Regions from separate parts of the Homo sapiens genome. Here region 1 is linked to region 2. The links come from fine-mapping of genetic effects on gene expression. A gene starts in region 2. The other region holds a variant in brackets. All regions are shown on one strand. Distances are between the middles of the regions. Region 1 overlaps SIGLEC1 (sialic acid binding Ig like lectin 1). Region 2 holds the start of ADAM33 (ADAM metallopeptidase domain 33).

Evidence for each region. PIP is the estimated chance that this variant, and not a neighbour inherited with it, causes the effect. A credible set is the group of variants that fine-mapping cannot tell apart.
Region 1: its variant is the best candidate, but not a certain one, in a credible set for the expression of ADAM33 in breast (GTEx, PIP 0.81).

What each region holds. Positions count from the first base shown.
Region 1 is chr20:3,701,103-3,705,483 of GRCh38, reverse strand. It overlaps SIGLEC1 (sialic acid binding Ig like lectin 1), which reads left to right. Exons shown (of 22, transcript NM_023068.4): 5 at 1,393-1,659; 6 at 2,033-2,287; 7 at 3,843-4,142. Among named protein-coding and RNA genes, the nearest start is that of SIGLEC1, 9.3 kb to the left of the region's middle. RefSeq lists an enhancer at 3,548-3,842. The variant T/C (reference allele first, on the strand shown) is at 2,109.
Region 2 is chr20:3,679,908-3,684,288 of GRCh38, reverse strand. It overlaps ADAM33 (ADAM metallopeptidase domain 33), which reads left to right and starts at 2,279. Exons shown (of 22, transcript NM_025220.5): 1 at 2,279-2,381. The coding sequence starts at 2,285. RefSeq lists an enhancer at 1,961-2,854.

The DNA.
Region 1 (4,381 bases), 21 kb before region 2:
GGGGAACAGGAGCTCCCATGCAGCTTCAGGGTTGGCAGCAAGTGCCCCGGGATTTACCCCGTGCTGGAGGATGCTGGGGAGGTGGGATTTATCCCTTTCCTGCCTGGCTCTGTTTTCTCAGTCTATGACGAAGATAACAATAGATGGTTCCTGTCTCACAGATTTATGATAAAAATTAAAGGAGATGGGCCGGGCGCGGTGGCTTATGCCTGTAATCCCATCACTTTGGGAGGCTGAGGCGGGTGGATCACTTGAGGCCAGGGATTCAAGACCAGCTTGGCCAACATGGTGAAACCTCGTCTCTACTAAAAATACAAAAATTAGCCGGGTGTGGTGGCATATGCCTGTAATCCCAGTTACTAAGGAGGCTGAGGCACTAGGATTGCTTGAACCCCGGGGGTGGAGTTGTATTGAGTTGTGATTGTGCCACTGCACTCCAGCCTGGGTGACAGAGTGAGACTGTGTCTCAAACAAAAAACAACAACAACAACAAAAACAAATAAAGGAGATGACCCAGGTCAAGGATTTAGAAGAGTGCCTGGCACATATTAAACACTTGAGGCCGGATACAGTGGCTCACACCTGTAACCCCAGTGCTTTGGGAGGCCAAGGCAGGAGAATTGCTTGAGGCAAGGAGTTCGAGACCAGCCTGGGCAACATAGTGAGACCCTGTCTCTACAAAAAAATTAAAAAACAAAAATTAGCTGGATGTGGTGGCTTGCACCTGTAGTCCCAGTTCCTCGGGAGGCTGAGGCAGGAGGATCACTTGAGCCCAGGAGTTTCAGGCTGCAGTGAGCTATGATTGTGCCTCTGCACTCCAGCTTGGCTGACTGAGCCAGATCCTCTTTCTAAAAAAATAAGAATAAAACACTTGAATACACAGAGAGAGGCTTTGGAACAAGATTTAAGGAAATGCAGTTCTTTGTGTTGTTGGCCTCTTGCTTACAAACTGGGTAACTATTTTCAGAGCTAGTTTGATGCTGCCTTTGGCCCCCTCCCACTAGGTAGTTGGTCCCTTACCAATAGCTTCCACAGGCCACTAAAGCTAGCAGTGGGGTACCCATGACCCTGTGTGTGGAGCTCATCCCAAATAGAGCAGGAGCAATGGACAGCATTGGGAAGCAGAAAACTACAGCTGGTGGGGTAGGCTGGACGCTGGCCAAGCGTCACATGATCAGCTCTCAATGGGCATAGGAATGCATCAGGCGCAGGGGGCGGGAAAGGGACGGACATGGGCAGACAGAGCATGCCCTGGGTGAGGATTGAAGGGGACTGCTGTTTTATCTGGGCATACTTCCTTAGGACTGAGCTTTTAAAGGGGGGCAAGAAGAAGTGTGCCATCCTCTGCCCTCCCCAAGCACCTTACCCAATACCCCCTACTGTGACTTGCAGATGCCCCCAAGGGTGTGAAGATCCTCCTCAGCCCCTCGGGGAGGAACATCCTTCCAGGTGAGCTGGTCACACTCACCTGCCAGGTGAACAGCAGCTACCCTGCAGTCAGTTCCATTAAGTGGCTCAAGGATGGGGTACGCCTCCAAACCAAGACTGGTGTGCTGCACCTGCCCCAGGCAGCCTGGAGCGATGCTGGCGTCTACACCTGCCAAGCTGAGAACGGCGTGGGCTCTTTGGTCTCACCCCCCATCAGCCTCCACATCTTCAGTGAGTTCTTGGGAAGGTTGCGTATTGGCCAGAGAATAGGGAGGAGCTCAGGCCTCAGGGACGGAGGGGAGACAGGGCAGGGCAGGGCCAGCAACTGGCATAACCCAGTGCTTCCTGGATGCAGGTGTGGAGTCCCAGCCCTGCCTTACCATGAGACAGGTGACAATACCCCCACGAAGGGTGGGGTGTCAGGGGGATCCTGGTGAGCAGGACAAAGAGATGCAGAGCACTCCAGGAGGCTCCCCTGTAGCAGCAGGCGGGTGGTGTAGGATGTGCAGAGATTGAGGCTGATTGGCTGAGACCCGGGGACTGTATGGGGCTGGGGCTGGAAGTTGGCTGGGACCCCCCAGCACTCCCTATGCTGCCCTTGCAGTGGCTGAGGTCCAGGTGAGCCCAGCAGGTCCCATCCTGGAGAACCAGACAGTGACACTAGTCTGCAACACACCCAA[T/C]GAGGCACCCAGTGATCTCCGCTACAGCTGGTACAAGAACCATGTCCTGCTGGAGGATGCCCACTCCCATACCCTCCGGCTGCACTTGGCCACTAGGGCTGATACTGGCTTCTACTTCTGTGAGGTGCAGAACGTCCATGGCAGCGAGCGCTCGGGCCCTGTCAGCGTGGTAGTCAACCGTAAGAGGCCAGGGTGGGGTGGCACTGGACACAGTCAGAGCAGGACCAGATGGTGGAGCCCCAAGGAAGGGTTGGGGTCCTGGGCATGGGAACTTCAAGGCCACTTACCTGGAGGTGGCCTTGAGCTCATGTCCCAGCTCTGCACACCTGGGCAATGCTTTGACCTCCCTAGTTCCCTCCTATTTTATATTTGGAAGTTTAAACTTATGAAAAGTTGCAGAGAAAGACAAATAATGATTATATACCTTTAACCTAGATTTCCCATTTATTAACATTTTGGCACATTTGCTTAATCTTTCTCGCTGTCTACACAGACACACACACGCACATACATACATATAAATGTATGGATATAGACTTGCATATATACAGGTGCACTTGTGTGTATGCACATCCACTCTATGTGGACATGTGCACTTATACATATATGGACACTCTATATACATATGCATATGTTATTTATGTATCTACCTACATATTTATATTCCTGAAGTTGCAGACATGAGGCTTCTTTACCGCTAAATTCCTAAGATCATTCTCTTACATATCCACAATGCAATGATCATGATCAGGAAAATTAGCATTGATAGAAGACTTTTTTTTTTTTTTGAGATGGAGTCTCACTGTGTTGCCCAGGCTGGAGTGCAATGGTGCTATCTTGGCTCACTGCAATGTCCGCCTCTGGGGCTCAAGCGATTCTCCTCCTGCCTCAGCCTCCTGAGTAGCTGGGATTACAGGCACCCACCATCCTGCCTGGCTAATTTTTGTGTTTTTGTAGAGACAGGGTTTCACCATGTTGGCCAGGATGGTCTTGAACTCCTGACCTCACGTGATCCACCTACCTCGGCCTCCCAAAGTACTGGGATTACAGGTATGAGCCACTACACCTGGCTGATAGAAGACTGTTATCTAAGCTATAATCTATATTCACATTTTACCAGTGGACCTAATACTGTCTTTTGTAGCCATTTTTTTTCTGGTCCAGAATACAATCACAGTTCACATATTGCATTGGGTCGTTGCGTCTCTTCATTCTCCGTTAGTCTGAGACTGTTCCTCAGTCTTTCCTTGTCATTCTTGACATTGAAACTTGCAGAGTGCAGGCCTGCTGTTCTGAGGAGGTCCCTCACTCCACATTTGCCTGACTTGAATGGCCTGAGACCATGCCCTCTGGGTGGGAAGGCCGCGGACATGCTGCTCTGCCCTGTCAGGAGGCACTCTGTGTCAGCTTGTCCCATTGCTGATGATGCTCACTTTGGTCACCTGGCTGAGGTGCTGTCCCTCACCAGGTCTCTCTATTAGTTTTCTCATCTTTGAAGTGGGGCTTTTATCCCCACTTGCAGGGTGGCCTTGAACACTGACTGGGACAACAGAGTGACGTACCCAGCCCAGCCAAGGACAAAAGTGTATTCAGCAGGCACTCAGGCACTTTGGGATCACCCCCTTCTCACAGGGCAGTGTGGGACAAAGCGGTGCAGAGGTCACGGGTTGTATCAGGGTATCCAGGGAATGCCCTTGTCTGAGGGTGACAGGCCCACCTCTCGTCTCCACACAGACCCGCCTCTCACTCCAGTCCTGACAGCCTTCCTGGAGACCCAGGCGGGACTTGTGGGCATCCTTCACTGCTCTGTGGTCAGTGAGCCCCTGGCCACACTGGTGCTGTCACATGGGGGTCATATCCTGGCCTCCACCTCCGGGGACAGTGATCACAGCCCACGCTTCAGTGGTACCTCTGGTCCCAACTCCCTGCGCCTGGAGATCCGAGACCTGGAGGAAACTGACAGTGGGGAGTACAAGTGCTCAGCCACCAACTCCCTTGGAAATGCAACCTCCACCCTGGACTTCCATGCCAATGGTAAGATGGGCACTGGCAGCCAGGGAGAGTGGAGGGAGCCTGAGGAGGAGCCTGCTCCAGTCTGTTCCTTCTAGAAGTCTAGTGGACTCAACCGCAGGACTGAGCTAACTGGCTACGCCACATAAAAGACAGGGGCTGTGCAGTGACCCAACGGCAGAGCTTCCTGGAAGTCAAGGGAAAAAGGGAAACACAACAGGTCACATCATTCCTTTTGCACCTACCCTGACCCTAAACTTGGA
Region 2 (4,381 bases):
TTGAGACGGAGTTTCGCTCTTGTTGCCCAGGCTGGAGTGCAATGGCATGATCTCGGCTCGCTGCAACCTCCACCTTCTGAGTTCAAGCGATTTTCCTGCCTCAGCCTCCCAAGTAGCTGGAACTACAGGCACTCACCACCATGCCCGGCTAATTTTTGTATTTTTAGTAGAGATGGGGTTTCACCATGTTGGCCAGACTGGTCTTGAACTCCTGACCTCCAGTGATCTGCCCGCCTCGGCCTCCCAAAGTGCTGGGATTACAGGCATGAGACACTGCGCCTGGCCAAGACCAGGAGTTTGAGACCAGCCTGGGAAACAAAGTGAGACCCCCCTGTCTACAGAAAAATTAAAAATTTTAGCTGGGCCTGGTGCCGTGTGCCTGTAGTTCCAGCTACTCAGGAGGCTGAGGTGGGAGGATACCTTGAGCCCAGGATTTCAAGGCTGCAATGAGGCATGATCAGGCCACTGTCCTCTAGCGTGGGTGACAGAGTGAGACCCTGTCTCTAAATAATAATCATAAGAACAACAAGGACCCTCTAAACGCACTGATATCTAAGGTGTATTAAGCGACCAAAAAAAAAAAAAAGAAAATCAAAGTGCAGAAAAACGTTAATAAGAGAAAAAAATATGTCTGTATTGTCTTGAGTGTGAAAAAATAATCTAAAAGCCTATGAAAGAAACTAATCATATTGGTTTCCTGTTGGTGAGGAGGGCTAAGAGCACGGAGACTTTTCCCTATGCTTTCTGTACTTTTTGATTTTGAGATATGTGAATGTAGGTTTCTCTCACTGCTCGAACTTTCACTAACCAAATTACTACATTCCAAATTCTCAAAAACAAATAGATTTACTTAAAAGTAGGCTGGGTGCGGTGTCTCACGCCTGTAATTCCAGCGCTTTGGGAGGCCGAGGCGGGCAGATCACCTGAGGTCGGGAGTTCGAGACCAGCCTGACCAACATGGAGAAACCCCATCTCTACTAAAAATACAAAATTAGCCAGGCGTGGTGGCGAATGCCTGTAATCCCAGCTACTCGGGAGGCTGAGGCAGAAGAATCACTTGAATCTGGGAGGCAGAGGTTGCAGTGAGCCCAGATCATGCCATTGCACTCCAGTCTGGGTAACAAGAGAGAAACTCTGTCTCAAAAAAAAAAAAAAAAAAAAAAGATTTGCTTAAAAGTTAACATCTCCGGCCGGGCGCGGTGGCTCATGCCTGTAATCCCAGCGCTTTGAGAGGCCGAGGCGGGTGGATCACGAGATCAGGAGATTGAGACCATCCTGGCCAAAATGGTGAAACCTCGTCTCTGCTAAAAATACAAAAGTTAGCTGGGGGTGGTAGCGCGCGCCTGTAGTCCCAGCTACTCGGGAGGCTGAGGCAGGAGAATCGCTTGAACCAGGGAGTCGGAGGTTGCAGTGAGCCAAGATCGCGCCGCTGCACTCCAGCCTGGCGACAGAGGGAGACTCCATCTCAAAAAAAAAAAAAAAAAAAAAGTTAACATCTCATCCAAATTTGCACCGAGTAGGAAAACAAAAGTTTAAAACATGAAACAGATGTTACTGAGGCCGAAAGGGTCTCCCAGGCCTGGGAGTCTGCAGCTTTTATGCAATTCTGCCCTCTGGCCACCGCCAGGGAAGAAAGGTTGTCTCCGTCTGCTGCATCGCCTTTGCCCAGCAATGAAGCCCCCAAGACAGCGGCAGCCGGTTGCCTGAACCTTCCTATCCTTGGGGGCACCCAGTGCAGGTGGATGACCCGACTCAACCTCCGCCAGGGCACCCTCGGGGCAGGACGGGTAGCAAGGAGGGGACAGAGATCGGCCCCAGGAGACCACGGAAGATCGCGCTCCTGGGGCCAACTTCAGCAGCGAGAGGCGGCCTTTGCCCACCGCCTCATCCCACCACGCCGCGGTCCTCCAAGAACCTTCCCAGCGGTTCTCTCCTCCTCTCAGGAGTAGAGGCCCTCTGAGACCGACGGGGAGGGACGGCTCGGGCCGGTCATCCGAGGGGCCGCACGGATTCCCTCCTCCGCCCAGCTCCACCCCCTCGAGGGGCGGCGGTCCGGGAGTGGCGACCCGGCTCCCCCATGGCGCGCGCCGTCGGGGCCCCTGGCCAGGCTCCGAGCGGGGTTGGCGGGGAGGGGAGGCGGGAGCGAGGGCGGGCGGTGGGAGGTGGGGGCGGGAAGGTCCGAAGGCGGCGGCCTGAGGCTGCACCGGGCACGGGTCGGCCGCAATCCAGCCTGGGCGGAGCCGGAGTTGCGAGCCGCTGCCTAGAGGCCGAGGAGCTCACAGCTATGGGCTGGAGGCCCCGGAGAGCTCGGGGGACCCCGTTGCTGCTGCTGCTACTACTGCTGCTGCTCTGGCCAGTGCCAGGCGCCGGGGTGCTTCAAGGTGAGGACGCGGGCGGGGTGCGCCCTGAGGGGCAGGCTAGGCGCGGTGGTGGTGGCGGGGATGGGTTCTGCTCAGAGCTCGGGTCAGCGCGCGGAGGGTCTCACGGCCCCGGCACCATACGGCCAGTAGGTCAGGGCGTGGGGACTCTTTGGGGGGGTCTCCGTGGGACCTGCCCAGGGACGCTCAAGTGTGCTTGGGCTGGCCCCGGGCCCGGACTTGCCCACACTGCCCGGCTGCCACTCCGCTGGCAAAGCAGAGGGCATGGCTCCCTCCCCCTCGGGGGCAGCCCAGCCCCCAGCCCATAGCCGTAGCCCCCTCTTCCTGGATTCTCGCTCTCACAACCAGCTTCCATCCGCAGGCCACCGTGTGACCCGCTCCTGCTCCTCCACCCCTTAGGACTCAGCGGGGCTCCGTCCTCTAGGAAGCCCCCATGCCCAAGAGTCCCCCAGAGTCCCTGCTTTGCTCTCAGGCTGCAGAACTAGCTGTGGCCTCCACCCTGCTCACCCCTCGTCCCTCCTCCCAGGGCAGCAGGGCAGTGTGTATGTTGTTTATATTGTTGCCTTGTTTGGTGAGATAGAGAAGGGCCTCTCCAGATAGAAGGTGTCTGTTTAGCAGTGCTCTGGGAAGACTGCAGCTGTCTCCTCGGGGTAACCCCTCCAAACAAAGATGTTAAGATGGGGCTGGAACAACCTCTGCAAGCGGGTGGGAGGATTAGCCAGTCCTGCACAGCAAGTGCCTGGCCGGGAACAGGGAGGGCAACCAGGGAGGGGGCATGCGGGGCTGGGCTGTGCTATGCAGACTGGGCGGTGGCTTCCACAGCACTGTGTGGGGACCAAACAGGTACAGGGGCCTGGTCTGTTCTGGCCCCAGGGGAGGGCCCCAGGCGGTCCACTGCTCCCTCCCCTCTGAGCCCTATCCTGGGGTCAGGGGAGGTGATGGGACCCCTGGGAGAGGGGCGTCTATGTGCCCAATACCAGCCTGGCTCCCTCGGGTTCCACCCCCATTCACCCGGTCACCGGAGCTCCAGCTCCAGCTCCAGCTCTGCCCCTCTCTCCCTCATTGGGGTCAGGGTGCCCGTGGCCAGCACGTGCGCGCAAGGCCATGTGGACAGCACCCACACACCACACTGCACCCACACCACACCTGTGCCCGGGCCCACCCTACCTCTTCCCCAAACCCTTAGAGGCCTAGGAGCAGCAAAGCTTGGTTCTCTACTCTCAGTTAAGTGCTCTCTGGGCTGAGAGACCTCCCCTCCTTCCCCTCCCCCACATCCACTCAGAGCCCTCCCTGCACTGGCCCCTCTAGCCTCCTTTCCAAGGTGGCAGACTCCTCTCGGCCCTCATCTGCCTGATGGCAATTCACTCATCCAATCAAGGAGGGCTTCTTGGAGGAAGGGTCTTTGATGTTTGTAGTCTGGGAGAGAAGGTGGAGGAGAAAAAAGGAGTTGGGGTGGCCTAGCAGGAGCTGAGTCACTTCCACAGGCAGCCATCAGCCCAGCAGGACTGAGGCCAGGGCTGCGTGGAGGGGGGAGGCTGTCTGTTCTGGGAGCTGGGACTGGGTACCGGGGGAAGGAGGGCTGCTGCAGGCTCTGGGTGCCTGGGGCCTGGCTCCTGCAGGGCGGGCCTGTGAGAGTGGTTGGGGCCAGTGGAGGGCTGGGAGCATTCCAGGGGAACATTCCAGGCGCCCTCTGAGTAATGCTTGGCTCTGGGATTCCTCCTAGAGCCCCCTTAGGCACACCCGGCCAGGGAGCACCAAGGCTCCGTCCAGAAGCGTCCCCTCCCCTTGAAGAGATGAGGAGGGGCCTTCTGGGCCAGGGTACCAAAACCCTGCCACCAGGACAGAGTCCCCGAGGGAGCTCTGGGCAAGGTGGACCTCGCAAGGCAACATCTGGCTGTTGTTTTTCTCAGATGATGGGGGGGGCACAAGTGTCCTCTCTTCGTACATCTCTCACCCTAAAGGCATCTGCTGCCCATCTAAAAATCCCTAAGGCTGCCGCGCTC